Regions from separate parts of the Homo sapiens genome. Here region 2 is linked to region 1. Evidence: fine-mapped expression QTL. Tissue or cell type: neutrophils. Region 1 holds a variant in brackets; the other region holds the start of a gene. All regions are shown on one strand. Distances are between the middles of the regions.

Region 1 (7,889 bases):
CACGCAGCAAAGGCCAGGGGCTTGCGCGCCTCTGCAGAGTTGTTGCTAGGGAGACTTGTGTCATCATCCACAACCTTGTTTCTCACTTCCTGGTTGGGCTCATCTCTGAAGAACAGGTCTCCCAGCTTCGCTCCTTATCACTGCATTGTGAAGAGGAGGAAAAGTGAATCACGGAGAGAGAAAGGAAAGGATAGAATCACAGGCTGCGTCTGCACCTGAAAAGTGACCCGCGGAAACTCTATGGCGGATTTTTTTTTTAACTTTCTTCTTCCTGTTAAAACATAGGTCACTAACTGTGATGTTATTTGTTTTCTAAGTGGTATGTGAGATTTTCTAATGTAGTTAGAAGTTTCATTGTCTGATGGACACAATATGCCCTTCCGGTTCTATTCAAACCAGCAGGATCTGTCGGTGCTTAGAGATGGCTGCCTGGACTGGAATCAAATCTAATTTCAGGGAAATGAAGATGGAATTTGAAGGTCACTTTTAAAATTAAGTCATTGATGCTGCTGTTACAGAGTGTGACAGAGGATCCATGTCTGTGACACAGGACGGTGGGAAGCCTGAGAGAGAGTGAAATTATGTGATACACTGAAATGACTTTTGTTTTTCTTCTAACTCATACAAAACTGGTTTGGAAAGTCTTTGCTTTGGAAGCGTCAGACATTAGAACAGGCCAAACTGGACTGTCTGTTCATAGCGTGCCTGAATAAGAAGGCCTCTTAGGGAGCCAGAGGGAGCAGAGTGGTCGTGTCCTGCGTGCTCTTCACCCTCTGGGGCGCCCCTGCTGCGGCTGGCAGGTGCAGACAGCCTTTGCTGGTCCCCAGCACGTCCAGGGTGGGTGCTCCCTTGCCCGACAGAACCATCCCCACTGTGAGGCTGTGAGAGATTTGTGGCAGGAACTGTTTATGAGGCTCTAGTTGTTGCTGTTGTGGCGGGAAAGTTAAGAAACATAGCCCTTAAGGAAACCACCTTTATGTATTTTCTTAAAGCACGCCTTTAAATAAGCAAAAACTTTAAAAGGCAGGAAAGAGAATTCTTAGGCAAATTCAGAGAAATAAGTGCTAGTTAATACTAATCACCTCCTCCTCTGTCTCTCATCCTCCTTTCTCCCATCAAAGCAAAATATGGCCTCACCACCAGCCCCAAATCAGTGCTCAGACCCTCTCTGTGTCTGTGTGCCCTCCTGGGAGTCAGTCAGCGCTCAGGCCAGGACTGTGCAGGGCCAGCCAGCCCATGCGCTAGTCAGGAGCACAGGCAAGGGGTGCTTGTGGCAGTGGCCGGGCACCTGAGCCCCAGCTCGTTGTTAAACGTGCTGACGGCAAGGGGCAATGGAGTGAGTTTCCCAACTAAGAAACCACTATTATATATTTTTTCCCTTCAGTCACATAGACTTCAGACAACTCTCCTATTTTTTATGGATTTTTCAGCTCATTTCAGATGAAGGAACTAAGTCATTGTGAACTGTCTCTTGAGATCTAAAAACAAGATGACTTTTCCTGGCACATATTCCAAAGCAAAGACTTTGTTGCCTGCTGCTTATTGTCTAATTTACAGGGATATTTAATTTTGTCAGGTCTATGTATATTTATCCAGCTATACTTACTTGCACAGTGGATTGGAGAGAAAGGATTCTCCAGTGTGCACACTCATCGGTACTCTTTCTGCATTTCCCTCGTGCTGTGTCCCGCTCGGGTTCCAATGGACAGTATCAGGGCTTGTTTGACTTAGGTCTTTCAGTTTTCCTTTCGGTTCCCTTTTAAAAATGTGATTGTTAACCTGCCTCTTGAAAGATTCAACCGGGTGTGGTGGCTCACGCCTGTAATCCCAGCACATTGGGAGGCCAAGGCAGGTGGATCACCTGAGGTCAGAAGTTTGAGACCAGCCTGGCCAACATGGTGAAACCCCGTCTCTACTAAAAATACAAAAAGTAGCCAGGCGTGGTGGCGTGTGCCTGTAGTCCCAGCTACTTGGGAGGCTGAGGCAGGAGAATAGCTTGAACCTGGGAGGTGGAGGCTGCAGTGAGTTGAGACTGCACCATTGCACTCCAGCCTGGGTGACAAAGCAGGACTCCGTCTCAAAAAAAAAGAAAAGATTCATGATGCTGCTGCTCCCAGAAGGTTTGCTGGATGTGTTTACATAGGACTCTAACTTGTGTGCACTACAGTTGTTCACCAGGGCCAGTGATTCACCCCAGTGTGTGGCCAGACCATGACTGTGTAGCAGGAATGTTTTAATTTGTGCTTCCTTAGTAAATTGAAATATCAGCTGAGAGATTATTTGCTGCTGTTATTCAAAAGGCCATTTATGAAGTTAGTATTTGAGCCCCATAAGATCTTTAAAAAGCCTCCAATCATTTAAAGGAAGAAATCAGAGTTGCTATAAAATTCAGTAAAAAGCTCATAGCCAAACGGCTGTGCTCAGATGGAAAGTCTGAGCTGAGGTTGGTCTCTTGCCAAACCGTGGCTGTTGTGTGTTGTTCTTCATGTCTTCGAGTTCATTTTTTTTCATTCTGCCTATTCTGGCATCAGCTCACTTGAGGAGTCCCTCAGCCTTCTTGTATTTAAGGCATCGTCTTAGACTTTGTGGCTCTAAAGTACCTGTCTGTTGAGATTTCAAGTCTCTTGTCACCATCCTCACACATGACAACAAAACCCATAATGCATAAGTGGCCTTTTTGAACCAAGACTTTGCAAACTGATCTCTCCCCCGTGAAGGAGTTGAGCACATTAGCAACAATGTACATTAATTTTGGATTTTCATTTTCATGTTTTATTTTGTAAATATTATCTGATGTTTGGAGCTTGAGTATACAGACTGTAAATATAGTTCTTGTATTTGTACTAATTCTGATTCTTTTGCTGTATAGCCTTAGATGTGCAATGCAGACACTATCTAACTGTGTGTGGTAACCTTGCGTCACGGAGCTGTTAGTGAACGAGGTAAAAATAATAAAGGTACAGCCAGTGCATCAGAAGGTTCTCGATGTGCATTTATTCTTGCACCCCTTGAAAGGTAATTGCACAAAGATTTCTTTTCTTGATTTGCAAAGATAATACCTTTCTAAGACAGAAGTCACGATATCATCGCTTAAGTATTCCTTTCTGATATTCAAAATCGTGGTTTTTATATAACCAAGAAAGCTAATATGGTGCTGTTTCTTTGAAAGTACTTTTCTCCCAAAGATGTAAGTGGTTATTTTAGCTAGAAGATTTGTTGTTTTTCTCCTGAAGCCTCCTTGTATGCCTTCCAATAATTCTGTAGTGTTGTGTTGGCTTCTTTTTTTTTTTTTTTTTCTTTTTGAGACAGAGTCTTGCTCTGTCACCCATGCTGGAGTGCAGTGATGTGATCTCGGGTCACTGCAACCTCTGCCTCCTGGGTTCAAGCGATTCTCCTGCCTCAGACTCCTGAGTAGCTGGGATTACAGGCGTGCGCCACCATGCGTGGCTAATTTTTGTATTATTATTATTATTATTATTATTATTATTTTATTTATTTATTTATTTATTTTGAGATGGAGTCTCACTCTGTCGTCCAGGCTGGAGTACAGTGGCATGATCTCGGCTCACTGCAACTTTCCACCTCCCGGGTTCAAGCGATTCTCCCTGCCTCAGCCTCCCAAGTAGCTGGGATTACAGGCATCCATCACGCCTGGCTGATTTTATTTTTAGTAGAGAGGGGTTTCACTGTGTTGGCCAGGCTGGTCTCAAGCTCCTGACCTTGTGATCCACCCGCCTCAGCCTCCCAAAGTGCTAGGATTACAGGCTTGAGCCACCGTGCCCAACCTATAATTATTTTTTTGAGATGGAGTTTGACTCTTGTCACCCATGCTGGTGTGCAATGGCACCATCTCAGCTCACTGCAACCTCTGCCTCCCCAGTTCAAACAATTCTCTTTCCTCAGCCTCCCAGGTAGTTGCAATTACAGGTGCCCGCCACCACACCTGGCTAATTTTTAAAAATATTTTTAGTAGAGACGGGGTTTCAGCACATTGGCCAGACTGGTCTCAAACTCCTGACCTCAGGTGATCCGCCCACCTCGGCCTCCCAAAGTGCTGGGATTACAGGCGTGAGCCACCGTGCCTGGCCATGTTGGGTTTTTTTGGGTGGGGAAGGGTAAATGGGGATTTGAAAAGTTGAACATGTCAATTTAATTTAACAAGCCCTCATCACGAGCAGAGCA[T/C]GAGCAGGGGCCACTGTCCTGGGTGTTTGGGGAGAAACAGAAGAAGGGAGGGAGGAGCAGCCCTCAGGTTAAAAGCAATGATTTGTTCCAACCAATATTTGAGTACCCACCCTGTGCCTGGTGTGCTGCTGGGTGCAGTAATTCAGCAGCCAACAAAGCAAGCCCATGCACTTGTGCCCTCCCATTCCAGTGGGGAAGACAATGTTTAAACAAATTTACAACATCGGTCCTAAGTATTTTGGAGGAAAGCAGCTAAATAAAAGGATGAAAGAGGGATGGGAACGAGGGATGTTTAGATGGCATAGTCAGGGAAGGCCTCTCTTCGGAGATCACATTTGAGCAGACTCTAGAATGAAAGGATAGGGTAAGCCATGCAAACCCCTGGGCAAAGAGGTCTCCAAGTAGAGAAATGAAGCCCTTGAGGCAGCAGTGTCCTCAGTAGGTTCCAGAAATAGCAAGGTCGCTGGTACAGAGTCAGGGACTGGGAGCGCAATAGAAGACATCAGAAAGTAGCCAGGGACCAGGATATTTAGGGCTTAGGTGAGGACTTGGAATTTCATTAGAGTGAATGGGAAGCCATTGAAGGCTTTGGAGCAGAGGAGTCACAGGGGCTTATTTACATTTTTAAAAGACCATTCTGGAAAACAGTCTTTGTACTCAGGCAGGGACAAGTGGAAAAAAGGGGCAAAATAAGATTGTTACCCCAGTATTCCAGGGGAGGAGACGGTGGCTCAGACTAAGGTAGTAGAGTATAGGTGGGACGAAATGGGCAGATTCAAGGTACATTTTGAAGTTAGAACAGTTTTCTGAGAGACTTCATGCAGAGTTGTTGGAGAGAAAGGAGAAAAGTAACTAAAAGGGTAAGTGCCTGAGTAAAAGAACAGCATTGCAGTTTTCTAAGGTGAAGACAATTGGTAGAACAAAAGCTGAGAATGGTCATGCCTGTAATCCCAGCACTTTGGGAAGCCAAGGTGGGAGGATCACTGGAGCCCAAGACTTCGAGACCGACCAGCCTGGGCAATGTAGTGAGACCCCATCTCTACAAACAATTAAAAATTAGCTGGGCATGATGGTGCACGCCAGTAGTGCCAGATACCCAGGAGACTAAGGCAGAAGGATCGCTTGAGCCCAGGAGTTGGAAGCTGCAGTGAGCTGTGATCTTGCCACTGCACTCCAGCCTGGTCAACAGAGTTGAGACCCTGACTGTTAAGAAAATAGCACTTTGGGAGGCCGAGGCGGGCAGATCACCTGAGGTCAGGAGTTTGAGGCCAGCCTGGCCAACATGGTGAAACCCCGTCTCTACTAAAAATACAAAAATTAGCGGGGCGTGGTGGCAGGCGCCTGTAATCCCAGCTATTTGGGAGGCTGAGACAGGAGAACCGCTTGGACCCAGGAGGCAGAGGTTGCAGTGATCTGAGATCACGCCACTGCACTCCAGCCTGAGCAACAGAGAGCGAAACTGTCTCAAAATAATAATAATAATTTGATTTGAGTCATGTTCACTTTCAGATGCCAACACATGCACCTAAGTGTATAGTCAACAAAACAGTTGGCTGGACTAGCGGGATTCAAGGGGAGTGGTTGGAGCTGGAGACACACATTTGGGAGTTGGCGGCATGAAGATAGCAGATCGAGCCTCAGGCAGGGAAGGAGACCTGGAGCGTGTGTGTGGCTGACAGGAACCAAGGACTGATCTTGGAGCTTGGTGCGCTCCAACACATGGAGGTCAGGAAGAGAGAGGAGTCCAGCCAGGAGGACAAGCAGTGGCCGTGGAGGGAGAGTGTGGAAGACTGAGGAAGTGGTTGCTTTGTCCAGGGCAGCCAATAGGTTACAGGAAGGACTGAGCAGGGACCACAGGTTTTGTTAACTGAAAGGTGTAAGAAGTCCGAGGGAGCCAGGGGATACCCTAATTTTTCCCAATTTCAGAACCAATTAAGAAACAAAAAATAAGACGATGGGAGATGGGAGACCAAAATACCACCCTTATTACTGATAAAACTGCTGTTAGAAAATGTGGTTACATCTGGGAACACTGGATTTCTTTTCTTTTCTTTTTTTTTTGTGATGGCATCTCGCTCTGTCGCCCAGGCTGGAGTGCAGTGGTGTCATCTTGGCTCACTGCAAGCTCCGCCTCCCAGATTCACACCATTCTCCTGCCTCAGCCTCCCCAGTAGCTGGGACTACAGGCACCCGCCACCGCGCCCGGCTAATTTTTTTTTTTGTATTTTTAGTAGAGACGGGGCTTCACCATGTTAGCCAGGATGGTCTCGATCTCCTGACCTCATGGTCTGCCCGCCTCAGCCTCCCAAAGTGCTGGAATTACAGGCGTGAGCCACCGCGCCCGGCCTGGATTTATTTTGTAAGGCTGAACCTCAGAATGAGGCGGTTTAGAGCAGTGCTTCTTGAACTTTATTGTGCACCAGAATCCCCTGGGGATCGTACTAAAATGCAGGTTCTGATTGAGTAGGGCTTGGGTGGAGCCTGAGATTCTGCTTTTCTAATAAGCTTCCAAGTGATGTCAGTATTGCCATTGTGGGGATCACTCTTTGAGTAGCAGAAGTTAAGAGGAACGCAGCGCATATGTCCCCTGAAGGCAGCCGAGGTTCTGAGAGAGAGGGAGGAAGTGGCCAGGCAGTCTATGCCTAACCGCTCCTTCCAGACTCACAGGAACATTCTAGTAATGGGGCTCACTTCTCATGGAGGGAGGCATCAGGAGTGCTTCTACACTAGCAAGGTCATTGGTGAGGGGAGCATTTGTTTGAGTGGTGCCTAATTGGAGTAGGTTCTAGGGAAAGTGGGAGGAGAGGAGGGTGAAACAGTACAAACAATTCTTTCATAGATTTTTCTGTAAAAGGGAAAAGACAAATGGAGTAACTGGAAGGGGATATGGGGTAAAGGAGAGGCTTTTGTTTTAAAGAAGGGAAATAGCATAGCTTGTGCATGTACTAATTGGAAAAAATGAACTGGGAGGGAAAACCTGGCAGTGGGGAAGACAGTGAGGTGGAGAGAGTTGTGGAGTGGGCCTGAGGGACTGGGGGCCAGTGCACAGCAGAGAGGTAGGTCCTAGATCCAACTGAGCACCCTGGCTTATATCCACAGTGCTGCCGACAGCTCAGTGATAGGAACACTGCAAGTCTCTGGATTGCTAGGACTCTTCAGTCTTAAGTTAATGTCTGGCTGGGCGTGGTGGCTCATGCCTGTAATCCCAGCACTTTGGGAGGCTAAGGCGGGTGGATCACCTGAGCTCAGGAGTTCAAAACCAGCCTGGCCAACATGGTGAAACCCTGTCTCTACTAAAAATACAAAAATTAGCTGGGCATGGTGGTGGGTACCTGTAATCCCAGCTACTCGGGAGGCTGAGGCTGGAGAATCACTTGAACCCGGGAGGCAGAGGTTGCGGTGAGCCGGGATCACACCATTGCACTCCAGCCTGGGCTACAGAGCGAGATTTTTGTCTCAAAAAAAAAAAAAAAAAAAAAGTTAGTTAATGTCAGCTCTAGGGCTTATGTCAGGCCACGTCTTCCTGAAACTGGACTTGCAGTTTAAAATGGGAGATCATCCCCGAATCAGTGCATATTATGCTGGTTGTGCCCTCAACTAGACCTCACCCAGGAGCATGTAGGATTGAATCCTCACTAGGGTTGCACGCTTAGTAAATCCCCATGTCTCTTGCAAAGCTGATAGTTTGGGAAGTCAGGTGACCCATG
Region 2 (6,901 bases), 170 kb before region 1:
TGGAAGGCGGAAAATCATCAACGGCAGAAATAGCACCTCCGAACTCCAGCCTGGGCGACAGAACGAGACTCCATCTCAAAAAACAAACAAAAAATAATAATAACAATAAGGAGTTCAAGACAAATCAATAAATTCTCTGGTTTTTCCTCCCAACTCAACATTTCCATCTTCCTGTTATTTTGTTTTTCAAGAAATAAAATATTACACATAAAGTTGCAGATCCTCATGTCATCCTCCCTTTTTTTGTTTGTTTGTTTTGTTTTTCTCTCTTTCTTTCCTGGGTTAATCTCATCCTGAATTTGATGATTGTCATTGCCATCCATGTTTTCACACTTGACTATACATAAATTTAGTCCTAAACAGTATAGTGCTCATATTCATACTTCAGACTTTATGTATAAATGCCACTGTCCCGCACCTATTATCCTGCACCTTTTTTTTTTTTTTTTTGAGACAGAGTCTCGCTCTGTCACCCAGGCTGGACTGCAGTGGTGAGATCTCGGCTCACTGCAAGCTCCACCTCCTGGGTTCACGCCATTCTCCTGCCTCAGCCTCCCGAGTAGCTGGGATTACAGGCATGTACCACCACATCTGGCTAATTTTTTGTATTTTTAGTAGAGACTGTGTTTCACCATGTTGGCTAGGCTGGTCTCGAACTCCTTACCTCAAGTGATTCACCCACCTGGGCCTCCCAAAGTGCTGGGATTACAGGTGCATTTATTCTTAAATATTGAATAGCTTTTATTGCTTTTTTTCTTTCTTTCTTTTTTTTTTTGAGACAGGATCTCACTCTGTCATTGAGGCTCGAGTGCTGTGGTGCAATCATAGCTCACTGTAGCCTTGACCTTCCAGGCTCAATTGATCTTCCCACTCAGCCTCCCAAGCAGCTGGGACTACAGGTACATACCACCATGTCTGGCTACTTTTTTTTTTTTTTTTGTATTTTTTGTAGAGATAGGGTCTCGTTATGTTGCCTAGGCTTGTCTCAAACTCCTAGGCTCAAGCGATCAGCCTACTCTGCCTCCCAAAGTACTGGGATTACAGGCGTGGGCCACAGCACCTGGCCGGGAAGACTTGATTTTTTAAAAAGATCCCATTAAAAATAGCAATAAAGGCCAGGCTCAGTGGCTCACACCTGTAGTCCCAGCACTTTGGGAGGCTGAGGTTGATGGATCACTGGAGTCCAGGAGCTGGATACCAGCCGTCTCTACAAAAAATAGAAAAATTAGCTGGGCGTGGTGGTGTGTGCCTATAGTGCCACCTACTCAGGAGGCTGAGGTGGGAGGATGGATTAAACCAGGGGGCAAGGGTTGAGGCTGTAGTAAGCTGTGATCACACCACTGCACTCCAGCCTGGGTGACAGAGTGAGACCCTGTCTAAAATAATAGTAATAATAAAGTCTTCCTATCAAAAAGGAACACTTCGGATTTTTGTGTATTGATTTTGTATCCAGAAACCTGATTGTGATTGTGATTGTGATGGGAGAGTGGCAGTGCACCACGTGACTAGGACTTCTGATGTTCTCGTATCCTTGCATTCCAGAGACAGCCCTACCAGATCATGGCTACATTCAATTTTCTAGTAATTTATTTATCATTTTAAAGAGATGCTTTTATACAGAATTTGTAATCTGAGAAACTGGCTGGGCAGTGTGACTTCATCTGTCAGAGAGGCAAAAGGCTTATGCAGAGTGGGCTGTTTGGCCTTGGATCCTGGAGCAGCCTTCTTTGCCTTTATTGACCCTTCTGTGCCTTCTGTGTGCCCTTTGGCTAGCTTCTTCTCCTGCCAATCACAATCACACCCTCTTCACTACGTTTTTGTTTTAAATTTTATTTTATTTTTTGTTGAGACAGAGTCTCACTCTATCTCCCAGGCTGGAGTTCAGTGGTAGGATCTCAGCTCACTGCAACTGCCGCCTCGTCCACCTCCCGGGTTCAAGTGATTCTCCTGCCTCAGGTTCCCAAGTAGCTGGTATTACAGGCGTGCCCACCACGCCTGGCTAATTTTTGTATTTTTTAGTAGAGATGGGGTTTTGCCATGTTGGTCAGGCTGGTCTCGAACTCCTGACCTCAAGTGATCCACCCGCCTCAGCCTCCCAAAGTGTTGGGATTACTGTCGTGAGCCACCGCGCCTGGTTCTTCACTACGTTTTAGATTCTTTTTAGATTGTGCTCCATTGAGAGCTCAAGCAATACAGCCACCCAGGTTTTCGTAACTCTCCATGGCGCTCACCACAGTATTTACGCAAGGAGGTCCACGCTATGATGAAGTGGTGTCTACTGTTGAATTGATGAGTTCCTCTTTATTAACCTACTATAGTTTCATTTTACTCTTAGCCGTCAGGAAGCTAAGAGCTGAGTTCTGTGCTCAGTGGCAACATATTTCCTTGACTATGGATTTTTAAAATATTGTTTTTCTGGCCGGGCGCGGTGGCTCATTCCTGTAATCCCAGCACTTTGAGAGGCTGAGACAGGTGGATCACCTGAGGTCAGGAGTTCAAGACCAACCTGACCAACATAGTGAAACACCGTCTCTACTAAAAATACAAAAATTAGCCGGGCGTGGTGGCAGGCACCTGTAATCCCAGCTACTCGGGAGGCTGAGGCAGGAGAATCGCTTGAACCTGGGAGGCGGAGGTTGCAGAGATTTGACATCGTGCCACTGAGCTCAGCCTGGGCGAGAGTAAAACTCTGTCTCAAAACAAAACAAAAAAATTTTTCTTTCTAGGCATGCCTCTCATTCAAACAGCTTTTAAAAAGTCTCTTGCTTGTTTCATTATTATGAATTTTACGCCTATTTTAAAGCTATACGGTTTCACTGCTGTATGCTTTAGTGTAAGCTATGTCAAATCCTTTTGCAGGTAGGTGGAGCTTAAATTCTATAAAATGAGACGTGATCAATAAAAGCGGATGAAGAGTCTGAGGACTTGAGTGGTGGTGGAGATTTTCCAGAATTATTAGTGTAGAAAATTAATTTCGATGTTTTAGTGCATATGCTTGTACATAATACCTTTTACTCACAATAATACTGTATTTAATTCAGGGGAAGACATGTGATTTTACTTTCAATGTCTGCTAGTAAATAAAAATAATTCACAACCTTATAAAGTAATAGTGCTCGGCCTGGGCCTGATAATTGAATATATTATCACTGAAGATTATATTTTGTTAAGTACTGAATTGAACAGTTTCTGAACAGTGAGATTTTTCTTTCCAGCTGAATCTAAATCTGATTTTAAAGAAATCACTGCTCGTGCTTTTGTGTCCTCCGGGTTTCTAACTTCCACTCTCCCTCCTTCAAGGGCATCTCCCAGAAGGGGGCTGGGCTCGTTAACTCAGGGACGGTGCAAAGCGTTTGTTCCTCTCCTCACAGCCCTTCCGCGGTCTCCCAAGGAGACAAGTGGAATGCCCACCAAGTCATGCTTTTCCATTACTCATTCCGCCTTCTCTCCCGAGGTGGCGCGTGGGAGGTGTTTTGCTCGGGTTCTGTAAGAATAGGCCAGGCAGCTTCCCGCGGGATGCGCTCATCCCCTCTCGGGGTTCCGCTCCCACCGCGCCGCGTTCGGCCGGTTCCGCCTGCGAGATGTTTTCCGACGGACAATGATTCCACTCTCGGCGCCTCCCATGTTGATCCCAGCTCCTCTGCGGGCGTCAGGACCCCTGGGCCCCGCCCCGCTCCACTCAGTCAATCTTTTGTCCCCGTATAAGGCGGATTATCGGGGTGGCTGGGGGCGGCTGATTCCGACGAATGCCCTTGGGGGTCACCCGGGAGGGAACTCCGGGCTCCGGCTTTGGCCAGCCCGCACCCCTGGTTGAGCCGGCCCGAGGGCCACCAGGGGGCGCTCGATGTTCCTGCAGCCCCCCGCAGCAGCCCCACTCCCCGGCTCACCCTACGATTGGCTGGCCGCCCCGAGCTCTGTGCTGTGATTGGTCACAGCCCGTGTCCGTCGCGGGCGCCGGGGCGGATACGAGGTGACGCGCAGAGGCCCAGCTCGGGGCGGTGTCCCGCGCCGGCGACTGCGGGCGGAGTTTCGCGAGGGCCGAAGCGGGGCAGTGTGACGGCAGCGGTCCTGGGAGGCGCCCGCGCGCGTCGGAGCAGCTCCCCGTCCTCCGCAGCCGTCACCGCCGGCCGTCGCCGCGCCCTGGCCTCCCGCACTCGCGCACTCCTGTCCGCCGCCCACCGCCCACCTCCCACCTCGATGCGGTGCCGGGCTGCTGCGTGATGGGGCTGCGGAGCGGCGCCCTGCGGCTCGCGGCGGCCGCTGCTCGCGCTGAGGTGCGTCGGTGCCCGGCCCCCCGCGCCCCCGCGCGCCGCGGCTCCTGTTGACCCGGTCCGCCCGTCGGTCTGCAGCGCGGCTGAGGTAAGGCGGCGGGGCTGGCCGCGGTTGGCGCCGCGGTCGCGGGGTTGGGGAGGGGGCCGCTTCCGCGGGGAGGAGCGGCCGGGCCGGGGTCCGGGCGGGGTCTGAGGGGAGGTAGCGCGGGACGGGCGCCGGGTGCGGGAGCCTCGCCCTCGGGGGAGGGGACCCCTCCCTAGGCCAGCAGCGAGTCCCGGGCCGGCGTCCAGCGGTCGGCTGGGGCCCCCGCAGTGCCCTGCACCGGCCCTCCGTTTCCCCCGCGCTGCCAGGCCCCGGCTGTGCCCAGCGCTCTCCAGACCCGCCGCTGCCTGGCCGTTCCCTGGGCTCCGCGCACGTTGCAGCCCGGGGGGCGGCTGTGCTTCGTTTGAAGCCATCGTTTCTCATTTTCCCTCTCCCCTTTCCTCCTTTGTGGTGGGCATCGGGCTTCGGCTGGGAATGTGGTTATGCCCTTTGCCAGATGGCGATAGGAAAGGTCATCGCTTGGCGCTGGGGGAGCCGAGGGCTCGAGGCCTGGAAAGAGGGGTGCGATAGGAAGGGAGGGGGCTTGTTGGATGCTGGCCAGGTGTGAGGAAGGCTGGTGTGGTCTCGGCATTCAGCCGACTGGGATTACTCGGGCAGCCATATTGGGAGGATGATCTGACAAATCCTTTAGGAGCCAAGTCCAGTTGTTGGAAGGCACCGAGTGACAGCCCTGGCAGCTTTCAGGGTGACTGGCCAGACCAGAAGCCAAGTTGTGGGGGTTGGGAGGCTGCTTGAGCAAGCTAGTCATTGTTCATGCAACACAAAACATTCCCGCCCCTAACGCCAGAATGGAGCTTCCAGATCCCTTTTTTTTTTTTTCCTTGATTGCTAAATGAGCTTCCAAGGTAAACTGCCTTCAAGATTCCATTCTTGTTGGGGTGAAATTCCGTGTTTCTCTATTCATCTTCTGCGTCCAGTGCGGGGGCTGTGAAAGGCCTGCTGATGCTTTACATGTGCATAGGCCGATCTGAGAATTGCTAAGGCCACTGTATCAGTATGGAGGCCTCGAGTAGCCGTAGAGCATTGGATGGATAGATTTTCAGAGTCGCTCGACTTGCAGAGAAGAAGTAAACCAGAGTATTCTGATAGTGGGCGAGGCTAGTGGCGGCATTTCTGAGGACGCAGGCTGTCATCTTTGTGGAATCTCGAGGTAGCTGAAATTAGATTGTCAACAGATCCCTTGCTCATATCTCTTACTGCTCTGAGCAGCTGTTCTGCCACCATTGAACATTCCGCTTTGTGTCATGATGTGCCTGTCTGAGCCTGATGAAAGTGTGCTGATGAGATTTGAATAACTCTTAAGAGGTGATATCATGGTGGATATTTTATTTAAAGGCTGGCATTTTGTCTCCTTAGTTTAGTCATAACAAAATCTAGTTCTTGTGTTCCTCTAAGAAGTGAGGTGGTGCTTTCTGATTAAGTTGATATGGTTGCTGGATTATAGAGCAAGTGTTGTTAATGTATTGTTTGAAGGTGGAATATGAGAATTACACATAGGTTGGTATTGTAAAGCAGGTCTGGAGATGATCAATAACTGGGTTCAGCATGAGTCTGTAGATCTGTTCTTTTCTATATCCTAGATGTGGACAGGACCTGGAGAGATGGCATGCCTGCTTTCTTCTTTGTGGCCTTTGCTTTCATTCAAGTTCAATTTGTTCATAAATACATTCTCATAACTTCTCAGGTTGAACTATGTAAAAAATTTTGGGATGGGTGTGGTGGCTCATGCCTTGTAATCCCAACACTTTGGGAGGCTGAGACAGGAGGATCCCTTGAGCTCAGGAGTTCGAGACCACCCTGGGCAACAGAGTGGGACTCTGTCTCTACAAAAATAAATGAATAAATAAATACCTGGGCATGGTGGCTCATGCCTGTATTCCCAGCTATTTGGGAGACTGAGGTGGGAGGATTGCTTGAGGCTAGCCTGGGCAACAGCAAGACCCTGGCTAAAAAAAAAAATGTGTATATATATATGTGTGTGTGTGCATGCGTGTGTGTATATATATATATATATATATATATATATATATATATATATACACACACACATTTAAAAAATTTGGATAGCTTTTGCTAAGCAAGGTCTTAACACTATTTTTTTGTTATTTTTGTCATCAAGCTTTAGTTTTAAAACTTGTTGAATCAAATGTAACTTCAACAGAAACTAGTGTTTTTTGCATTACACTAGTATGAGAGAAATACAGAATGTCTGTTTTGAAATTCCATGCCCTAAGTTAGAAGTATTTCTAAGTTTTTAATTTTTAGAGTTACTTTATTAGTATAAAGATCTGAATATTTTTGATTAAAAATAATTTCAGCATTTGGTAAAATCAGACCTGATTGTGAATCTGATACAGAGGCTAGGTTTTATGAGTATGTGTAGCTCTGCTCTGATGAGTGTTTTTCCAAAATTTATCCAATTAAGTATAGCTTTTAAGGCTTAGAACAGACTGTTTTTCCTTTTCAAGACCAGATATGAATGCACTTTTCCTTTTTTCTCTCTTTCTTCTTTCCCATTTTGATTTCG

Which allele goes with the higher level. Alleles are on the strand shown, and positions count from the first base shown. SD is a standard deviation of normalised expression in the study named.
For the expression in neutrophils of the gene that starts at base 4,051 in region 2, C is the high allele of the variant in region 1 and T is the other (moderate effect, 0.49 SD a copy in CEDAR).

Evidence for each region. PIP is the estimated chance that this variant, and not a neighbour inherited with it, causes the effect.
Region 2: it holds the start of KIF1B, and the variant in region 1 is fine-mapped to the expression of KIF1B in neutrophils (CEDAR, PIP 0.95).

What each region holds. Positions count from the first base shown.
Region 1 is chr1:10,378,627-10,386,515 of GRCh38, forward strand. It overlaps KIF1B (kinesin family member 1B), which reads left to right. Exons shown (of 49, transcript NM_001365951.3): 49 at 1-2,977. Among named protein-coding and RNA genes, the nearest start is that of PGD, 16 kb to the right of the region's middle. The variant T/C (reference allele first, on the strand shown) is at 4,183.
Region 2 is chr1:10,206,520-10,213,420 of GRCh38, forward strand. KIF1B (kinesin family member 1B) reads left to right here and starts at 4,051. Exons shown (of 49, transcript NM_001365951.3): 1 at 4,051-4,359. RefSeq lists silencers at 3,272-3,566, 3,653-3,732, 3,763-4,282 and an enhancer at 5,184-5,839.